Linked DNA regions of Homo sapiens: regions 2 and 3 are each reported to be linked to region 1. Evidence: microRNA targets listed by miRTarBase, many of them from high-throughput screens and not tested one by one. Region 1 holds a microRNA gene; each other region holds the end of a gene's coding sequence.
What was found. Region 1 holds the annotated microRNA hsa-miR-297 (AUGUAUGUGUGCAUGUGCAUG, at 4,626-4,646, opposite strand). A microRNA usually pairs through its seed, bases 2 to 8, with sites in the 3' UTR of a target mRNA and lowers its output. Matches are read on the target gene's strand: a 7mer-m8 pairs with bases 2 to 8, a 7mer-A1 pairs with bases 2 to 7 and ends in A, and an 8mer does both.

Region 1 (7,207 bases):
AAAAATCATAATTTTTTTTAGCAGTTTGTTTTTTGCATTGGCATCAAAAACTCTCCAGGCATCACAACTGGTTAATATGTCCATAAGACTCTTTTAATCAATAGACTTTCCCTTCTTTCTCTTTCTCTTTTTTCCCCCTGTAGTTTCTTTGTTCAAGAAACGACATATTTTTCCTACAGGGTTACCTACAGTCTGAACTTTGCTGATTATATCCTTGTTGTGTTTTTAAACATGTTCTTGTGTCCTATGCACTTTGAAAAATTGAAAGTTGAGTTGGATTCAGGTTATTTTTCTTGGCAATATCATTTCACTTGTTTTATATTCTGATTTATAAACATAGTGTGCCAATGTAGTTTCTTAAGTGGACCATTTAGGATGTTTTTAAAATGTTCAACTCCTTTTTATCTGATCAGTGGTTCTCCAAGCCTGGTCCCTGGACCAGACTCATAAGCATCACCTGGGAGCTCTTAGTGATGTAAATTCCTAGGCCCCACCCCAGATTAACTAAACCAGAAACTTTGGGAGTGGGGGCTAGCAATCTTTTAACAAGCTGTCCAGCTGATTCCAGTGCAAGTTATAATTTGAAAAATCACTATTATAGATCATTAGTAGTCATTGGCCATTTGTATTTTTCAAAATTCAAAACTTGTTGGTACTCACAAAGAAGAAATTGTGTAAATTAGTGTTTGCACGTTTAACATCTTGACAGATAAGTTCTGTCTTTTCTAACTCTTCTTCTAACCCAATGTATGGCCCCAGTTCTTGTGTCAGTCATCTCAGTAAAAGGAAGATGGGAAATCTAGTAAACAATTAGTATCATTAATTTGTCAGGATTCTGTTCTATTTGCTAGCACCCTATTTAATCTGACTGCTGGTGTTAACTATTCTGCTGCTCCATGTTACTATGCCATGACCTACTTATCATATAATTTCTTATTATTTTTGGAGCAAACCCAAGATCCTTACCCTGTACTTCAAAGACCTACACCTTTGTGCCTCATTTCCATCTGATGCTAACATGTAACAATTTAACCTTTTTGTTCTCCTTACCTTGTCTTGGCTTTCCTTTAGAAGAGTTCCCTTTTCATAAAAAGTTTTTATTATTGGAATACCTAAGCATTTATATTATATAATAATATCCTAGACCCTGTCTTTTGAAGAGTTTTCCTAGATTTAAACATACAATCTGAATATGGAACTCATTCTTGGCTTGTCTAGTATTTTTCAGCAGCCTCATACTCCTAGACATATATCGGTGGCATTGCATCCCTTTATGGGCAAGAGGCAGTAGTAGAGTGTAGGAGTTAAAAGCATGGACCCTGGGATTTGAATCTTCTGCCTGCTACTTACTATCTATTTGCATTAATTTCTTCATCTGCAGCATGAGGAAAATAATAGTATGAAACCCATCATGTTGTTGTGAGCATTAAATAAATTATTATATGTAATATGCTTTGAGGAAAGCCTAGCACATGGTTATCAATTATTCTCTTAATATTTTATTTGATCATATACATTTTGGTTTATGGGTTTCCATGACTATTGTTCACCCTAGGAAATTATTGTAGGTTAGGAATTATGCTAATAGGTTTCTATTAACATAATATTTAATTCAGTGCCACCTGCACTCAAGTGCTTTTTGAATTTAGTGCCATTCAAAATGCAAGCCCTTGAAATGAAATCTTAGAAAAAGGTGGGTGTAGGGGGGAGAATTTAATTCAGAGTAACGTACCCGACCTAAATAAAAACTTCTTAATCATGTATCAAAGGAAAAGAAAACCTTGTATCTAGCATTAATTATATTAATATAATACAATATAGTAGAGTTTTACTAGCCTCTCCCTTATGCACTGTGAAAACAGGTAGTTTGCAAAATGCACCTTTATTCTGCAGTAAGGCTGCTTTGGGTAACAGGGAATCAGTGACCTGTTCTATCATCACTTGCAAATCATAACAATTAATTGTGTTGAAAGGTCTCAAAGTCTAACTAGTAGTTAACAAAGAAAGCTTGAAAACTGAGACAAAGTGTTAATGGTCATGTGAAGGTAAATTTAACGGCCATATTGACAGTTACAATTATTACTTCTGGCAACAAGGTATTAGCAGGCTAAATACTGTAATGAGTTTCAGTACTTGCTTTTTACTACACTATGAGAAAAACTAATTATGAAATACATATAATTTATGATGTATATAATTTATTATTATTCATATGGCTCTGATATTGGTCAGTATTAAATTGCTTTGTCAAACATTAAAGCCAATAGACTAATGCTCAGTTTGGCACTATCATAATTTACAACTATTTAATACTATTAATTTTTTGTGGGGGGACAGGGTCTTGCTCTGCTGTCGAGGCTGGCGCAATCTTGGGTCACTGCAGCCTTGACCTCCCAGGCTCAACTGATCCTCCCACTTCAGCCTCCCAAGTAGCTGGGACCATACACGTGTGCCACCATGCCTGGCTAATTTTTGTATTTTTTTGTAGAAAGTGGGTCTCACTTTGTTGTCCAGCCCGATCTCCAACTCCTGGGCTCAAGCGATTCACCCACCTCAGCCTCCCAAAGTGTTGGGATTACAGGTGTGAGCCACAGCACCCGGCCTTTAATTCCTTTTTAATATTCAGATCAAATACTTTTCTTTCTTGTTTAAAAAATAAATTCAGATCAAATGTTGTTGTTGCTGTTATTTTCATATTCTGAATGTGTGGCACTCTTGACTCCTTGAATGCTGTGTGTGCATATAGGTAGATAATTTATGGAGCCGCTGAGGGGATTCCCTCTCATTCTTTCCTGACCCCAAGTCAGGAACTGACTTCCCATGTGGGAGATGAGATTTAGTACCCAGTACTTCAGTCGAAAGCCCATAGGCAGATGTTATGGCTCTATTTGCCTCCCAAAGTTTCCTTCAATGAAAGGACTCAAAGGGGGCACAAGTTAGTTTTCTTCTTAGTGGCCCAAAAAGGTGTGGCGAGGAAAAGAGTATTGCTGAAATATCTGCTTTGAAATTAAAGAAAATAAGACATTTCTTTAGATTAGCTTAGAATAATGAGATGTGAGAAGGAAAGTTTAAGGTATATAAAATGGGGCAATTTATAATTTGTCATAAAGTTGTTATAAGGATGGAATGTGTTATTATTATAAAGAGCTTAGAATAGTTCCTGGCAGAGAGTGATTTTTATTTAAGGGTTAGATATATAGTTAGTATAATCTTTTGGCTACTTTTATTATCAATTGATTATGAGATTGATCAGAAAAGACATTTGGAGATAGAGTGGGGCTGGCAAATGTGATCCCTTTTCCCCTTTTAGACTCTAATTTCTCTTTGCCCCTCTTCTTTTTAATCCTTCAATCTCTCTCTCAGACCTATGACTTGATGCCTGTAGACCCTAGGTAGTGAGATCTGTGTGCCTCTGAGGACTATGATGCAGCACTCCAACAGAAATAGCAGAATTCTGAATAAGTATTCAGTCAGCACGTTACTGTACTAAATGCTTTAGGCAACTGTTACACAATGGCAAGCATTTGTGTATCTAAACATTTCTAAACATATAAAAGGTAAAATATGGTATAAAAGACAAAAAATGGTAAACCTGTATAGGGCACTTACCATGCATGGAGCTTGTAGGACTGGAAGTTGCTCTGGGTGAATCAGTGAGTGAGTGGTGAGTGAAGGTGAAGGCCTAGGACATTACTGTCCACTACTGTGGATTTTATAAACACAGTGAACTAGGCTACACTAAATTAAAAAAAAATCTTCTTTCTTAAATAATAAATTAACTTTAGCTTACCATGGCTTTTTTACTTTATAAACTTGTATTTTTTTACTTTTTGACTCTTTCTGTAATAACATTTAGTTTAAAATATAAACACATTGTATCGCTGTACAAAAATGTTTTCTTTCTTTATATTCTTATTCTATAAGCTTTTTTCTATTTCAAAGATCATATATATATATATATATTTTACTTTTTCAACTTTCTTGTTAAAAACTAAGACAGAAACATACACATAGCCTAGGCCTACACAGGGTCAGGATCATCAGTATCACTGCCTTCCATCTCCACCTCTTGTCCCAGTAGAAGCTCTATTAAGAGTGGAAAACTGGAAATAGTAACACAAATGGAGCTGTAATCTGCTATAACAATGCCTTCTTCTGGATACCTCCTGAAGGACCTGCCTGAGGCTGTTTTATAGTTAACTTTTTTTTTATAAGTTGAGGCAGTATACCCTAAAATAGCAATAAAAGTTTACTATAGTAAATATATAAGCCAGTAACATATTCGTCATTATCAAGTGTTATGTATTGTGGATAATTGTATGTGCTGTAATATTATATGACTGGCAGCACTGTAGGTTTATTTACACCAACATCACCAAAAACGCATGAGTAATGCATTTGCTATTACATTATGATGGCTACGACGCCATTAGGTGATAGGAATTTTTCAGCTCCATTTTCTTCTTATGGGACAACTGTCACATTTGTGGTCTGTCGTTGACTGGAACTTTTTCGTGTGGTTCATGACTATATGATCAATGCAGAAGTTATACCATAGATTAAAAATAGAAATGAAATCTCCTTGATATATGAGTACATAATACATATATATGTATATACACATACATGCACATGCACACATACATACATATGTTCATAAAGTATGTAGAAAGAGATCTTGAGTTGGAAATAAGCCATCGTTCAGGCAGGTGGCCATGGGTTAAAGCTGTGAATTTACAAAATGGGGAAAAGGGAATCAGAGTAAAAAGCTATGCTATTACTCCATATTTAATTTTAATTGTGATGGGTATAGAAGCCCTTTGGCATGAAAGGGAAAATGGTATATATTTTAAATTTTCATGCCAATGATAAATATTTCACATGCATTAAAACCTGTAAAATATATTGTATTTACAGGAGCAAGTCACATTCTAGGGGGAAATTGCCTTTCCTGCAGTTGTATTTTTACATTACCCCAAATACCTGTGAGAACCAATTAGTCTCCACAACTTGCCATGTTCCTGTTAAGTGAACCTGGCACAGGAACATCCAGCTAATCCTTTGGCAGCCTTGTGTGAAGTACTTAGGAAGCCTGGTGTGTCCTTCCTCCAACCTTACAGCATGGGAGCCAACTCTGGCCACTGTTGGCCTGTTATTGTGCAGTGGTGAATTTCTGACACAAAATGAGTTGTGGAGATTACTGAGGAAGGAACGCAAAGTGATTATGTGGTCTCTCTTTTGGGCCTGATCTTTAGACCTTCAGAAAAATTGGCCTCAACCTTACAAAGATATGGACAAGGAAGCCATTCCAAACACGAAGTACTCCATTGTATAAAGTACAAAAATGAGTAATACCATCATTAAGAATAAAATATTCTCAAACAAGAGCCTACTGATTAAGAATGGAAAACTGGGCTGGGCGCAGTGGCTCATGCCTGTAATCCCAGCACTTTGGGAGTCTGAGGTGGGTGGACTGCTTGAGGTCAGGAGTTCAAGAGCAGCCTGATCAACATGGTGAACCCCCGTCTCCACTAAAAATACAAAAATTAGCTGGGCATGGTGGTGGGTGCCTGTAATCCCAGCTACTCTGGAGGCTGAGGCAGGAGAATCACTTAAACCCGGGAGGCAGAGGTTGCAGTGAGCCCCTATCGCACCATTGCACTCCAGGCTGGGCGACAGAGCAAGACTCTGTTTCAAAAAAAAAAAAAAAAAGGGAAAACTGGAAACAAACTGCCTGGCCTGAATCTTGGTTTCTCAGCTTACTAGCTGTGTGACTGGGCAAGTTATGTAACATCTCTGTTCCTTAGTTTCCTTATCTGGAAAATATACCTACCAGATGAGGTTGTTGTGGGATTAGACTAAGATAATGTTGGTCATGCATGTAAGCAGAGCCTGTCACTTACGTAAGTATCAACCAAAAACCTTTCCAAGCAAACAAACAAGGAAACAAAACTTCTGTACAAATCTTATTTTAAAAAGTTATAAAGTTATAGTTATTCTTAATTAATGGTTGAATGAGTAGAATTCAGATCTGTTATTATTTTTAAAGAATGTAGACTTGAAGTGTAGAAAAGGATTATTTTAAAATATAACTTTTCAGTTTTGGTGTTCTGTTTCACAGTAGAGTGACTACAGCAAATGCCAATGTATTGTATATTTCAAGACAGCTAGAAGAGAAGATTTTGAATGTTGCCACCACAAAGAAATGCTAAGTAGTTAAAGTGATAGCTATAATTACTCCAATTTGACCATTATACTATAGATACATGTATTGAAACATTATACCCAATAAATATGTACAGTTATTATATGCCATTATAAATAAAAATAAGTGAAGAGTTCAAAAAAAACCTTTTCAAAGCTTTGAAAATTTTTTCTGAAAGATCGAGTTGATCATTATTTTGAAGAGAAGAAAATGTTTAACATTTTACTCAGTAATTTTATGGACAGTAAACCAAATGGGCAGTCCTTTGGTTCACTTCTCTCTGTGCCCAGAAATACCTGGGTTGCCTTCATATGGCCTCAGGTTGTAGAGTTGTGAGGCACCTGACTGGGGTTGCATGGGATGTGGCAATCCTTATATTTAATATTTCATATTTTTAAGAGAATGAGAGTGGTGCAGGCGGGGTAAAGGGTTCTCTCAAGAAGGATGGGGCAAATACAACTGCTTCTGTCCTAACTGGGAGGAAAAGCAGACTGACAAAGTCAGAAAGCTTTGAGTTTCAGGTCAGCCTTCCCACTGACTCCCATTCAAACCTTGATCAAGTAATTTGACATTTCCTACCTCAGTTTCCTCATCTGTAAAATGGTGATAATAATAGCACTCACCTCAGAAGGCTGTTGTGAGGGTTAAAGAAGATAATGAATGTACAGAACTCAGCATACTGCTTGGCTCATATGGAAGCCCTTAATACATGTTAGCTAATAAATCCTACCTTTGCTCCTTGCTTCAGTGCTGGAAGTGTAGAAGCTGACAACTGGTCCCTTCTTTATTTAGGTTCATCCCTAAATAAAGGAAAAACACCATGTTGAGTAAATTTGGAAGAGACGGTATTCCCTGAGACTAGCAGAAGTCATAGCTATTAAATGTGTAAAACTGACTTTGTTGCATAGAAATCCTTTGATAAGTAACAGATGAAACTGTGATAAATGATATATTAATAAGTAAAAATTCACTTTTATTAGGCTTGCCAGATAAAATACAAGA
Region 2 (7,207 bases), not on the chromosome of region 1:
TGCCTGTAATCCCAGCTACTTGGGAGGCTGAGGCATAGAACTGCTTGAACCCGGGAGGCGGAAGTTGCAATGAGCCCAGATCGCGCCACTGCACTCCAGCCTGGGTGACAGACTGAGACTTCGTCTCAAAAAAAAAAAAAAAACAAAAAAAAAGAATATTTCCTCCCAACCAATAGCAACGATCCCCACCCTCAGAGAAAGTGGTAATTCACAGCTCCTTTGATTTTCCAGGTTCAGGACATGGGGAAGAAGCTGGACTTCCTCGTGGATATGCACATGCAACACATGGAACGGTTGCAGGTGCAGGTCACGGAGTATTACCCAACCAAGGGCACCTCCTCGCCAGCTGAAGCAGAGAAGAAGGAGGACAACAGGTATTCCGATTTGAAAACCATCATCTGCAACTATTCTGAGACAGGCCCCCCGGAACCACCCTACAGCTTCCACCAGGTGACCATTGACAAAGTCAGCCCCTATGGGTTTTTTGCACATGACCCTGTGAACCTGCCCCGAGGGGGACCCAGTTCTGGAAAGGTTCAGGCAACTCCTCCTTCCTCAGCAACAACGTATGTGGAGAGGCCCACGGTCCTGCCTATCTTGACTCTTCTCGACTCCCGAGTGAGCTGCCACTCCCAGGCTGACCTGCAGGGCCCCTACTCGGACCGAATCTCCCCCCGGCAGAGACGTAGCATCACGCGAGACAGTGACACACCTCTGTCCCTGATGTCGGTCAACCACGAGGAGCTGGAGAGGTCTCCAAGTGGCTTCAGCATCTCCCAGGACAGAGATGATTATGTGTTCGGCCCCAATGGGGGGTCGAGCTGGATGAGGGAGAAGCGGTACCTCGCCGAGGGTGAGACGGACACAGACACGGACCCCTTCACGCCCAGCGGCTCCATGCCTCTGTCGTCCACAGGGGATGGGATTTCTGATTCAGTATGGACCCCTTCCAATAAGCCCATTTAAAAGAGGTCACTGGCTGACCCCTCCTTGTAATGTAGACAGACTTTGTATAGTTCACTTACTCTTACACCCGACGCTTACCAGCGGGGACACCAATGGCTGCATCAAATGCATGCGTGTGCGTGGTGGCCCCACCCAGGCAGGGGCTTCCCACAGCCTCTTCCTCCCCATGTCACCACAACAAAGTGCTTCCTTTTCAGCATGGTTTGCATGACTTTACACTATATAAATGGTTCCGCTAATCTCTTCTAGGATACACATTTATCTGCTGTTCTTACTTTTAATCACGATTGGACCAGTACAGGGAGAAATTACTGATGAGCCATGCTATTTGTCTGTTTGGTTGGCTGGTTTGGGTTTTGGTTTGGTAAGCAGAGAAAGTAGTTTAAGTTATTTCTAGGATCACTGCCCTCTTGTGTAAAACGCTCCAGCAATTAACTGTTTTTGAAAGCAAGGAAATAATTTTCTCAACAAAACCACATTGTGTATCAGTGGGGCTGCCTACTGAGCTAACATTAGGAAAGGAATGAGATAGTCATTGTGTCTCTAAAACAAAGAATTTAAACAAATATTTAAGGCAAAACCTTTTAAAAGCTCTCCAAAAGACCTCACTTGGCCTGATGTTACTTAGTATCATGCCTCAGTTTCCTTATCTGTAAAAAGTGGTGGTAATCCCAAGTGTAGCATTTCTGATGAGTTATGAATTGGCAGGGAGAAAACACACACACACACACACACACACACACACACACACACATACACAAAGTTAAAATAGTTTCCAATTTATGTAGCCAAGGACAATGGAATTTATCAGAAGTGAAGTGCCCCTCTGGGCAGGAGCTGAGTTCAGTGCCTTTAAAATGAATTTCCAACTCTCATTTCTTCCCATGATACTGAAGTACAAAATATCCATCTAAAATAGAAATTAAAGTCAAGAAGGCACACAGAAATTTTCTAGTCCAAGGACTTCCTTTTATAAATGAAGAATCTTAGGCTCAGGTAAAGTGACATACCCAGAGTCACTCAGTTGTCCCATAGAGAACCAGGACTCAAAAGTCAGGTCTGCCCACTCTCCCTGACCTTGTTTCCCCTCACCACACCATTCTTCCATTTATATAATGCATCCTAGAGATTGTGTCAAGATATATGACTTTGTGTCGCGTGGAAAGCACCCAGTTTATCCAGCAGGAGGGGGATTTCCACTTTTATTGCAAAACATGCTTGCTTGATGCAATGCATTTCAGATCTAGAAAAAAATAATGCAAGCAAGCTACATTTACAGATGTGTAAACAGGCAAAATTTCCAGAACCGTCCAATTTTACTTTTCCAAATTTATGGAACCAACCCAGATTTTTTAAATGAAAATACTAAAACCATATGTAACCGTAAGACAAGCTAAAATGTAAGCAGACAGCCTGGGAAGCACTGCCCTACTGTACAGGTGTGATATTAAGCACAAGCCATCCTCTGGCCTCTTATGAGATGTTGTTATTCTCTGAAAAACTTTGATGGAAAAGGTTTCTGTTAGGCTTAGACTGAATTAGCTAAATGACCATGCCACAGTATTATTGTATCACTCTTCTCACACACCTAGGCACTGGTTGTGGATAGTTGCCATGGTGACAATCAAGATAATCCAGATGACCTAAACAAATGTCTGTATGCAGCTGACACTGCTATTCTCCCTCACAGTCTTGTCAAGAGCCACAGTAGCTATGGCAGACATTTGGTTGATGGTTTCATCATTTCCTAATACGAGAGTCTGGCACTATGTTGGAGAGAGGAATCACTTCCTCAGAGATAGGTTCCTTTCAACTCACATGTCAACAGTTACTGTACAAAAAGCTCAGAATACAGTAATGATTAGAGCTTGACCCCTGACTTTAGGAACTTAGAACCAAAGCCCAAAGTCCCAGGCCAAGGGCAGACATTGTGAGCAGCAGAAGGGTGTTTTTTATGGAGAGCCCCATAAATGGATGGGTGTAGACCTTGAAGTCTGAGATGGGAAATATACCAGAATGCTCAATGCATCAGACATGAAGCCCCACGGGCTTCCATTTGACATGCTGGCAATCTGAAGGACAAAGGGCATGGGTTATTTGGGCCTTTTCCCCACTCCTTCAATATGGCTGAAAGTGCCAGTGGGGATTACAACCTAAGAAACCCTATGCCCCTTCCTGAGGGCTTGATTATTGAATCCTGATCTTCCTGGAATCTTTCACTTGAGATGATCACCTGCCTAACATCCAACATGTTACTATGCTCTTCTTTATGTACATGAGTTACTGGAAACCAACAATAAAGGAGAGTGAGTCATACTCTCCACATATGCGCCAATTAATTTTTTAACTTACTTATTAGTATTCTTGAAGAACTTACTATCTTAAGTATTTTACCAATAGATGATGCATTTTCCAGCAACTCAATGGAGTTCTACCTTAAAGTATTTACCATTGATCCAAAATTGGAGGAACTACCTTAGATTCTTTTAATAACCTAGAAAGGATTGGAGCTTGTATTATTTCCTAAACCATAGGCAGGCAGTCTAGCTTCCCTGCTGGATCATAAGACCAGGACAGCAGAGATTGGGTTTGTATTGATCAGTAGTAGGGAAGTATTGATTGTCTAACATCTAGTAAGTTGTCTTTATCAGTATAGACATAGACAAAATACATGTTTTATGAATGAATAAATAATAAGAACCTTAAGAGCTGTTTTTTTCCCATTTAAGAAAACAAAAAGGAAAAGAGAAAAATGATCTTCTGGAATAACTCTGCTTTGATATTCTCCTTTTGTTCCCCAAAAAATATATTCCAGAAAGGCAAACCAAACCTGCTCAAGTTGCCTATGCACAGACAATCTCAACAATATGGCTCACAGTGAGCAAGCAGAAATTCAGGGTCTGGAATTGAATGTGAGTTATGGGAAGAAACAGTGTGTGCTTTCACAAAGATCCTTTTGTCAGACAAGGGAACAGCATGATAATCCAATGGAACTGGTTAACATGACCCAAGATGACATGACCACAGATATACTAGTCGTTCTGAAACTTGCCCAAGAAATTGCAATCGTTTCAGCAGAACTCCATGAAATATTGACAAATTAATTCCATCATCAAACTAGGAGTGATATTATCAGGTAAAACTATGATCTCATGTATGTATTTGGTCTTTCTGGGTCACAATGTGACATGAAAAATTTTAAAGGTCATATTTTAGCAAGATCAAAATGAATTAGATAAATCAACTTCACAAATGTTAAGCGAAACATGATCCTATTGAGCTGAGAAAGAAGTACTTGAGATCGTTTGAGTTTTGACTATCAAATGTCAGCACAAAAGCAAATATCAAAAGCTTAAGAAAAAAATTATTTCAGGAAAAGAAAAACACATCAAATTGAGAAAGTGTTGTTGAATAACTTTGTTTTTAGAACTGGAAATTTAGGCTTATTAGACATGACATTGATATTACAAAGCCCTAGTTTTCATGAAAACATAACTAGATAACCCCAAGGTGTATAGGTTAAAATGAACTAATTAATCAACAATTATGCATCCTGTGTCTATTTTGTGCAAGGTACTTCCTAGACACTGTAGTTTGAAAGAATAATTTCCTGTAGAAAAACCTAATCTAATAGGACCTACTCATAATTTGGCAAAATCATCCTCATAATTCCATGCTACTGAAATGGGGGTGTAATAAAGAAAAAATCATTTGTTTATTCATTTAACAGGGTTTATTAAGCACCAATATATGCCCAGAACTTTGCAGTGCACTGGAAGTTCAGAGATAAGAAAACCACAGTTTCTGCCATCAAAATGCTAGGAATCTAGAGGTCTCAAACATCAGAGGTCCCTTCAAACTATGTCTACCAGGAAAATAAAATACCTGATTTCATCCCTGCAAACAACTCTATACAGACAGAAATGCTTCCTAGCTTGGAAACTATAGAAAATTGAACATGAAAATGAGAGCAAAGGTTCTACATCAAAATGGCAATGATCCAATCAGCCCAGTCAAGGCTGAGTGGGTTGAATGGGGACTTCGAGTTTGGATTCAATGCTTTGAACTTCATAGCTCCAGAGAAGCTGTGCAAAAAGGGGGGATTCTAGGGAATCTGAGGAAGATTGTTGGAGAAACCAGCTTTCTTCTTGTCTCCTAATCCCTGCTAAGATTGATACCAGTCAAGGAGCTGAGTTACTTTCATTTCATTATGTTGACCAAGAGAAGCTTATGATACAGACTATGACACAGCACCTATTTCAAGAGAAAGATGTTACTCTACTTATGGGAACCTGCAGATCAAATTCTCCTGGGGCAAGAGAAGAAATTTGTTCAGCAGCCTAAGAAGTCAACTGTACTTTGGACAGTGCTGCCAAACACACCCCAGGATTCTCCCACCCCTGTGCTTTCCCAGAAGATGCCACATAGCTGGTATTTGGTTTTCATGAATAACCAAAGATTCTTCTTTGCTTCCTGAACCCCAGGCATCCTTAGGAATTTGCTTCATGTCCTCACTTGTCCTTGAAGGCTTGTTTTTCAGGATGAACTTTTAAAGTCTAAGTTGTTTATATTCAAATCAACCCAATGCTATTGTTGCTGATATTAAACCATTCCAAACTGAGCCAACTGGCCCCTAAACAAGCCAGCAGGCAGCCCCTCACTAATGCCCAGTTTAGAACATGTTAGGACCAGGCTATCTGCATAGCTTTAGTGGTTTTAGAAGCCAGTAATGGCAGTGTAAAAGAGGAATCATACAGAGATGACCTGGAAGAAAATTTGAGTTTCAGCACATTCAAAAGCATTTGACTCTTCTGCCGTGTTTTGATTTTCAAGTGAGACAATCAATGTACACACAAAGCCTCTAGTACAATGACTGATGCATACTAGGGACTGTTATTTATGTTATTTTTTTACAGTATGCATGGACTTCATTGTCTCAGTCTTTGGTGTTACTTATAAACTCTAAATTTACACCAAAAAAATTTTTTTTCAGAAAAAGAATCGTGGAGAAACAATCCTAATTATTAAATCAAATGCTTTCACAATTGCTTTTTAAATAAGTACATCTCTGCAAATAAAAATGCTTGCTCTTGTCTACCACAATAAAGAACAGAAGGAATCTTGGAATGAAGAGAGGCAGGAATGTTGGATCTCAGTGGCTGAGTTGTGGCAATTCCATTGGACATATAGTACCAGATGTTGCACCATCTGGATGATGTGTAGGAGATAAAGCCAAATTGCAAAAATAAAAGACTCATGATTTCCCAAGGAAAGTCAACTGTGCATGGTGGCTATCAGACAACACCCTAGCAATGAATGGGGGAACTTGCAGAAGAAAGAGTTAATGCTTGCTTAAACCTTCCCTGGGGAGATTTGTTCCCAGGCTTTCACGGCTTTAACCTCAGCAACCCTGTAAGAAAATTGTGATTCATATTTTGATTTGTTATCATAGATGCAAAGAGACATAATTTCATGGATTCTAAGATACACAGAGCAAGAAGAGATTTTGATCACCCAGAACAACCACCTGTCTTTTTAGATCAAGAAGCAGAAGCTCAGAGCAAAGAACATCACACCACGTCCCTCAGTGATTGAAGCAGTGATTGAGTCACAGAATAAATCTGGAACTCAGGTCTTCTGATCTTTGCTCCAGATGTTAGAGACAAAACTAAAAGTAAAATACCAAGTGAAATCAAAGCATCACGATTGAGCCCAGAACATGAAAAAGAACTTCCTGGCCCACTTGAGAAACTGTTAAACCGGACATACCTTTGGGGACTTCTTCCCTTCTCTGGAATAAGATTGATGTTTCCATGCTGTGAAAGACGATGATGTTCCTTCTCCCAGATTCCTGCTGTCTTCAAAAGGCCTAGCAAAAACCACTGCTGCTGGGTGCAGTTGAGAAAGGGAATGAAGAACAATCCCATGGCCATGCAGGCACTCCTCCCCTCCACCTCTCTGCCCTCCACCCCTCTGCCCTCTCCTACCTTGTTCCTTCTTGGTCCTGCCATGTTTGGACTGGTTCACCTTTTTGGCCCATCACTTGGGCTCATTCAGCAACAGTCATGCCTTAGGTTGCATCCTCATCTATAGGCCAATTAAACAGGGTTTCTTCTTGATAAATCCCTATGGTTTTGATTTTAGGAAGTCAGGCATGATTTCTTTTGGGATCTATATGACCCAAAGTGGCCAGTTTTACCAAAGGTGTCCCTTTGCACTGGGATCTCTGGGTCTCATTTGA
Region 3 (7,207 bases), not on the chromosome of region 1:
TTAGACCATTGCGCAGCATGGTAACTATCATTCATAATGTACTGTATATTTCCAAATTGCCAAGAAGGTACATTTCAAATGTTCCCTCCACAAGAAAAATGCTAAGGATGTGAGGTGATGGATATGCTAGCCAGCTTGACTTTATCATTCCTCCTGGTATACTTGTCAAAATATCACATTGTACCCCATCAATATCTATAAAATTTGTCAAGTAAAAATGAAAATAAATTTGAAAAAGATCTTAGGCCTACTTTATTCTAATGTAAAATATGATCTGTAGAAATTCTACTTTTAAAAAATATTTTATTCAATTATATCCCCTCAACTGGTTTTATTTTCATGGGAAAAGTTTTCAGTTACTGAAGGTGATAAATCTCTGAAACAAGAACTAATCCCATACCTAGGATATATTAATTAATTAAATGTCTTCACTTACTTACCAGTGGCAGAGAAATGTTCCAAAAATTTTAAAAAGCTAAAAATCTTTTCACTTTGCTCTTATAATATTTGAGAATTTTCACACAAGAGCTTGAACTCTCCAATCTAAGTAGGACAGAAATACCTGTGTCATATTAATTATGTTAGAGTTAGGTGAACATAGAGAATGGTCCCCAAAAACAATGCTGTCCACACTTTGAGTTTAAGAGTTGTTCTAGACGTATTATGGTGAAGTGGTCATGCATCACCTGTGCTTTCTTATTTGCCTCTACAGGGATGCCAGATGATATGAACTTCAGTGATGTAAAGCAAATCCATCAAACAGACACTGGCAGTACTTTAGACACAACAGGAGCAGGATGTGCAGTGGCGACTGAATCTATGACATTCACTCTGATAAGTGTGGTGATGTTACTTCCCGGGATTTGGTAACTGAACTCTTCTGTCCTGACATACCTTACTGAAGTCTCGATTTCTTCTCTCTCTGCATATGCCTGGAATAAGAGATCCTTTTTCAATGTAACAATTATATTTATGAAAAGATATGTTACACTAACTTCTCAGAAGCCAAGCTGAAATATTCATAAAGTCCCTAAAACTCAACGTTTAAATGACACACTTTAAAAATATGTCTTTTTTCAATCTAACTGAAAACCTTCTTAACTTCTAATATATTAAATCTGAAGATGTGAAGGGCACAGAAGTGACTTTGAATAAGAAGAATTTAGTGTATCTGTAATTTTATTATCAATTCCAAGCCCCTTCCTTTCTAAATTAAAAATGTTTTCATTTGAAAGTGTATTTGCCAGACAATGAAAACAGTATGCAGTATTTCTTAAAGTATTGAAATTAGAATATCATGAAATAAATCAAAACATACAATGGCAAGTAGTATGCATGCATATTCAAGAGACTCTTCCATTTTTGCAAGCTGTAGAAGGAAATGTCTGAATGTCTATAAGTTATGGGGTAGATTCTTGAGAAGCATTTCATATAATTTCACTGAAGAACCTTGATAATTTTGACCCACTGTAACTTAGCCACTGATGAACCTTAAAGCTGAGTATTTTATTAACACCTGATTTGTATTCCATTATATTCAAAATGCATCTTTGGTATTGTGCCTCTGCTCCCATCTCTCTCTTTGCCTCATAGATTTAGCTATGTTGGGAAGCACATGCTTGCTCTAGGAATATCTCCAATAAAGCTGTTAACTATTTGGTGGAAAAATTTGAAGAATATTTGTCATTTTCTTCTGGCAAAAATGCTATTTTCACCCATTTTCAAAATATTATGTACTACTTTTTAAAGCCTGATGTTGTACAATTGGCTACCTTTGCATTTCTAAGGTTCCTATGAATATCTGCAGACATGTACAGAAAAGATGATATGCAACACTTTAGCTCTTTCCTATTTGCTCATTAATGGAGCTGCAAACCAACAGTCCCTAATTTCTCAGTTGGGATAAGTTGCCTCAATAGACACTAATAGGATATGTATATGGCTATACTTGAGGAAAAGAGAAGTTAGTTTTTATTAATAAGTATCACATCCAGTCTACAGAGAGAAAATATAATTAATACAAAGTCACAGAATAGAAAAGGGAATTGCTGACCTCAAATAAAAAAAAACAAAAAAAAATTTGAAATGACTTCTGACAAAGACGTAAACAAGACACAGCCAAATGCAAACATTAATAAGGTAAAATCCGTTTCTGCTAGTCAGGAAACAATATATGATCAAACCTTGTTCTCGCTTAAGTTCTCAATTAACAAAATGATCTAAGGATGGTTAGTTTAAATCACAACATTTTTAAGCTGCCCAATCAGGTTTTACCCTCCATTCAAACATGCCTCAGAACCGTAAGTGTTATTCTACCCATCAGTTGTGGATGCCATTTTCCTAGGCTTCCATTCCACACCTAACATTCCCTGATCCATTCAGTTAATAACTCATTTGCACTCACCTTGACACACTCCACAAATTACAAACTTAACCCTATTTTGAAAATTTTTTACTTCAACCTCAGCTCTTCATTTAAATCAGTCTTGGAAAAAAGTGATACTAAGGCACTCATTTGCTGCCCTCCAGCCCAAGTCATGATTGGCTTGCTACGGCAAAATTTCAGACCCAACTTAAGAGGAATTTAATTCTAAAGACAAACAAACTGAAGAGCATGCTTTAGCAGTCTAAGATATATGGATAAAATTAATTGACAGAAGATAATTTCAGATATGGCAAGAAATGGACAAAAGCAGAGTGGTAAAGTCAATACAAGAAATGATTATTTTTTTTTAAACTAAGTTTTACATGCTCAGATGGGTGTTATCTGCAGGTGGGCACTTTGGGGACTATATAAGCAATAATGGTGTTACTAGAGCTTAAAACACTGGGGTTTTCAGAATTTCTTTAAAAGCCTAAGGCAAAATTGTTAATATTCTCAGTAAGGATATACTTATCCATTAACACTTCCCATTCTGTGACATTTCATATCTACATAGTTTCTTATGAATTGCAAAGCTCTTTCAAATGAGAGAGAGTATCTCATTTGGACTTTCTTCGCCCCCTCAAAGATAGGCTTGATTTTCAGTCAAATAAAAACAATAATGCTGATTTTTTATATGGCTCAGAATTTGCTTCTGGAGAGTTTTTCATTAATAAGGTCTAAGAAAGTTTTGAGCAATGATACAAGTGTTGGATATGTGTCTACTTTCCAAGATTATTTAATAGATTACATCAGACTGAATGTATGTATTTAAAAATATCACACACATAGTCACATTTTATGCTGGTGTAATTTTTAAAAGAGCCATATTCTTGAATCCCGGAGTTATTTTTATGAGTTTAAGTAATCATAAAACTTCGTCTGATATTTTGCATATATTGGGGAGACTAGGTTTAGAAGCAGAACTAACATTTACTTGGCCTTTCTTTGTATACGCACCATGATAAATGCCTTGATGCACAATGTCATTTAATCTCCCCAAAAACACTGACATTTCCATTTTACCAATGAGAAAACTGAGCTTATAAATATTAGGGAATTTGACAGATGTCATACAACTAATCATAACAGAGTTAGATGGTGAGTATGATACCTTTAAATAAACTGTATACCTTTCTGGTTCAAAGATACAGTTTTGGAACAACAGCGAGGAACTACAGGTTAGCACAAAAATCATTCAGAGACTACTTAAGTCTCCAAACTAGGATTTAACAAATACAGTTGGCTATAGAATAATTGTCTAATTACCAAAATGCACATTAGTGTAGAAACATAATAAAAAGGAGAAGTGTAAACATGGACTTTTTTTAGTACCATTCATTACCCTCCCATATATTCAAACCCACTCTAAACACATCAGCCCTGAAAATAAATCAGCTGCCGAGAATGAGAAAGAAAACACAACTGTTTTAACTCTAATGGGATCATGAAGTTTATTTTAGTTTCCTTTGCAACAAAAAGGTATAAAACATTTCTTTGGCTATAGGATGGCATAAAAAAATGAAAGGAAGGAGAGGAGGAAGGAAGGAAGGAAAGGAGGGAGGAGGGAGGGAAGGAGGGAGGGAAGGAAGAAGGGAAGGAAGGGAAAGGGCATGGCAGAAAATTATTTTTTAAATCTTAGATTTGCCTTTATCCTCTATTTATTCTGTGAATAAATAATGTCTGCATGGTTACAGTACATGGTACAATAAAATAATGTCTGCATGGTTATCTTCTCACTAAAAAAGGACTGAGGTTAATAAGCTCTTTCCTCCCAACACTCAGATTTTCTGAAGTGCTCAATAATGATGCTTTGAAAAGGACTAAATTCATTTATTACTAACTGTTTGCTATCATATAAAATATTGTTTCTAACATCAGAATCCTTCAAGGACAATAAAAATGATTTTTTTCTTGAATGAATATATTCAACCTAGACGTCTCTTATTCTGAATGAGAACTTTGTTGAGCAGGCTACATCACTATTGTATTTAGTTTGCAACCTTTAATGTCATTCATATACAATTACATGGGTTATGAAAATTCAGAAATAATAATTTCTAATGTTGTTAGGTATGAATGTGAACATATCAAGTTTTTCTTTAAATGCAGATTGTTGTATACAAGTCATTTTTGATTAAAATACAGATAAAACATATTTCTCAAGTCAAAAGTCTGCTTTCCTTGCCTTTAGTAAAATTACAGAGTGACTGAATTACTGTTATAATTACTTTATGACTAGAGATCTAATCAAATATAATTCTTAAGCTATCCTTTCTGCCTCCTTGCACAGAGAAAACTGAGTAATTTCATCACAATATAATTTATATTTCCATAGCAGAAAACAATAACTTATTTGGAAGAGAGTAGAGTAGGAGTGGATGTCCATGGTTACTTTTTGGAAACATCTGATTTAAGAGACTTTTGCCTTCCTGCACTTGCCAATTCTCACACTGGAATCAACTTCATGAAAATGTGTGTGAGAAGATCACGCATCTTATTTTCCCCTTAAAATTTTACTTTGACTACATTGAAGACCAGAGTGAAAGACAATATATCAGAATTTGAAAGACCATAGAATTAAGAACAGAACGGTGAACATTTAAGGATCAAAACTGGTTGGAGACAGAAGGAATGGGACTGACTGCAGTAATAAGTAAATTCTTACTTTTATGAGTTTGATACCCACCTTTAAACATGTTGGATTGGAAGGAATGAAGACTCTTAGAAAAAAAGGGAGGTCTCTGATTTTCCTGAGATTACTCAGCCAAGACCACTAGCATAACAAGAAGAAAGAAAAACGAAGAACAAGAACAAGAAGGCCCAGCTGTAAGACAAATGCTGTGAACGGTATAGTATGTTCCAGAAAGAGTGACTCCATAATTGTGATCAAAGAGTTCCAGGACCCAATTTGCAAAGTCAATGTGATTTGCTCACCCAGGGCACATTCTCACTTCTCTCCTTGACCCCCCCACCCTGCCGCTCCATCCATATACATACTCATTCCCCACATACATTTTCTGGCTACTGTCTCTATTTCCTTTCTCTTTTCTTATCTGTAAAAATTGAGATAACTGTATCTACCTCACAGTGTTACTTAGAGAACTAGATAATCCAACACCTATTAGGACCCTGCTGGCCCATGATGAGCCATAATGATTCGTGTTTGTTCCCTTCCCACAGAGCTTTCTGTTAAAGTGCACATGTTTCCAGGATGGGACAACACTAGAATATTTAGTTATGGATTCTGCCTGTCAATAAGTTTTTGATAGGGGAAGAGATCTGTGTTAGTCTGTTTTCATACTACTATAAAGAACTACCTGAGACTGGATAATTTATGAAGAAAAGAGGTTTAATTGACTCACAGTTCTGTAGGTTGTACAGTAGGCATAGCTGGGAAGGCCTCAGGAAACTTACAATCATGGTAGAAGGCAAAAGGGAAGCAGGCACAATCTTCACATGGCAGCAGGAGAGAGAGAGTGAATGGGGAAGTGCAACCCACTTTCAAACAACCTGATCTTGTGAAAACTCACTGTCAAGAGAACAGCAAGGGGAAACTCCAGCCCCATGAACAAATAACCTCCCACCAGGTCCCTTCCTAACACTGGGAATTAAAATTCAACACGATATTTCGGTGAGGACCTGGAGCCAAACCATATCCAGAGCGTAGAGAAGATGGTTGGAGAGTGAATGAGTAGGGTTCAGGAAAGGGAAAGAGAAGAGAAGCAATGGACTCTGGAATGCACAAGAAACCCATACTGCCTGCTTCATGTTTCATGTTTTGCCTGGACTCATCCTGGCTATGAGGCTTATTCACTGAAAGTTTATTTTTTTAAGTATTGGGAGTAAGTGGTCTTTCTTTCATTGAATATAAAAGGATATTAGCTCTGACCCAGTATTCAAATGTGAATTGGTGTCTACAATGACAAATTTAGAGACCTCCAAACCTTGCTTGAAGGTCTCCTTGACTGGTGTATTTAGACCTCCATCTCTGTGGGATTATTATACTGTGGGTTACCAGTACAACCCAAGCGCGGTGGGAAGAACAAATATGAGTAAACAAGAAGTGTGTTGCTCAGTATCTCACCTAAGTTACCCCCAAGTGGTTATTTCTGAGAGGCAAAATCACTTCATTAAGGTCACATTGCCAGTGATAGACAAAGCAAGCATTCTAAAATCAGCCTTCAAAATCCTTTTTTCCACTGCACCACTCAGTATCCCAGGGTTCAGAAAACTTTTGATAGGTCAATTAGGTTAGGTTAGGCTACTTGAAGGCTGTATAGGCTATTTTTAAATGTTCCCTTGTTTTATTCACTTTCTAAAATGTCTTCTCTCTAAGATATTTTATTTTTCATTTGTCTTTCATCTCAAATTTAGCTCTAGTAGTAAGGTTGAGGATCCTGAGGAGATTCCATATGCCAGGTGCCCTAGTGTGGCCATATGATGGGGTAGTTGGCTCGTTCATTGACTCACAAGCATCCAAAAATGCTGGAGAAAACAGCAAATGGAGCTTCAAAGGCTTTAGCAGTAATTTTCTGTATGACCTTCGGCAAGTCCTGTAACTCTTTGAACTTCAGTTCTTTATTTGTAAAATAATGTGGTTGAGCCAGATAATCCCTAAATTTTCTTATGTATTTTTAGAATTCTAGATTTCTAGGCCAAAACAGAAAACATTATTGATGCAATAAGAAAGAACATTTGTTTATTTGATGTCACATAATTTACCATTTCCTAATATATAGAAGGCACTTGAAAAAGTATTGCCTAAAATACAATTTTAGTTAC

Region 2: the mRNA of KCNQ3 is a reported target of hsa-miR-297. Seed matches in the 3' UTR shown: 7mer-m8 at 1,718-1,724.
Region 3: miRTarBase lists GPC5 as a target of hsa-miR-297. Seed matches in the 3' UTR shown: 8mer at 1,313-1,320.

What each region holds. Positions count from the first base shown.
Region 1 is chr4:110,855,999-110,863,205 of GRCh38, forward strand. It overlaps MIR297 (microRNA 297), which reads right to left and starts at 4,649; the gene lies at 4,584-4,649.
Region 2 is chr8:132,123,021-132,130,227 of GRCh38, reverse strand. It overlaps KCNQ3 (potassium voltage-gated channel subfamily Q member 3), which reads left to right. Exons shown (of 15, transcript NM_004519.4): 15 at 232-7,207. The coding sequence ends at 966. Among named protein-coding and RNA genes, the nearest start is that of HHLA1, 15 kb to the right of the region's middle. RefSeq lists enhancers at 394-894, 895-1,395.
Region 3 is chr13:92,865,570-92,872,776 of GRCh38, forward strand. It overlaps GPC5 (glypican 5), which reads left to right. Exons shown (of 8, transcript NM_004466.6): 8 at 713-1,668. The coding sequence ends at 870. Among named protein-coding and RNA genes, the nearest start is that of GPC5-AS1, 150 kb to the left of the region's middle.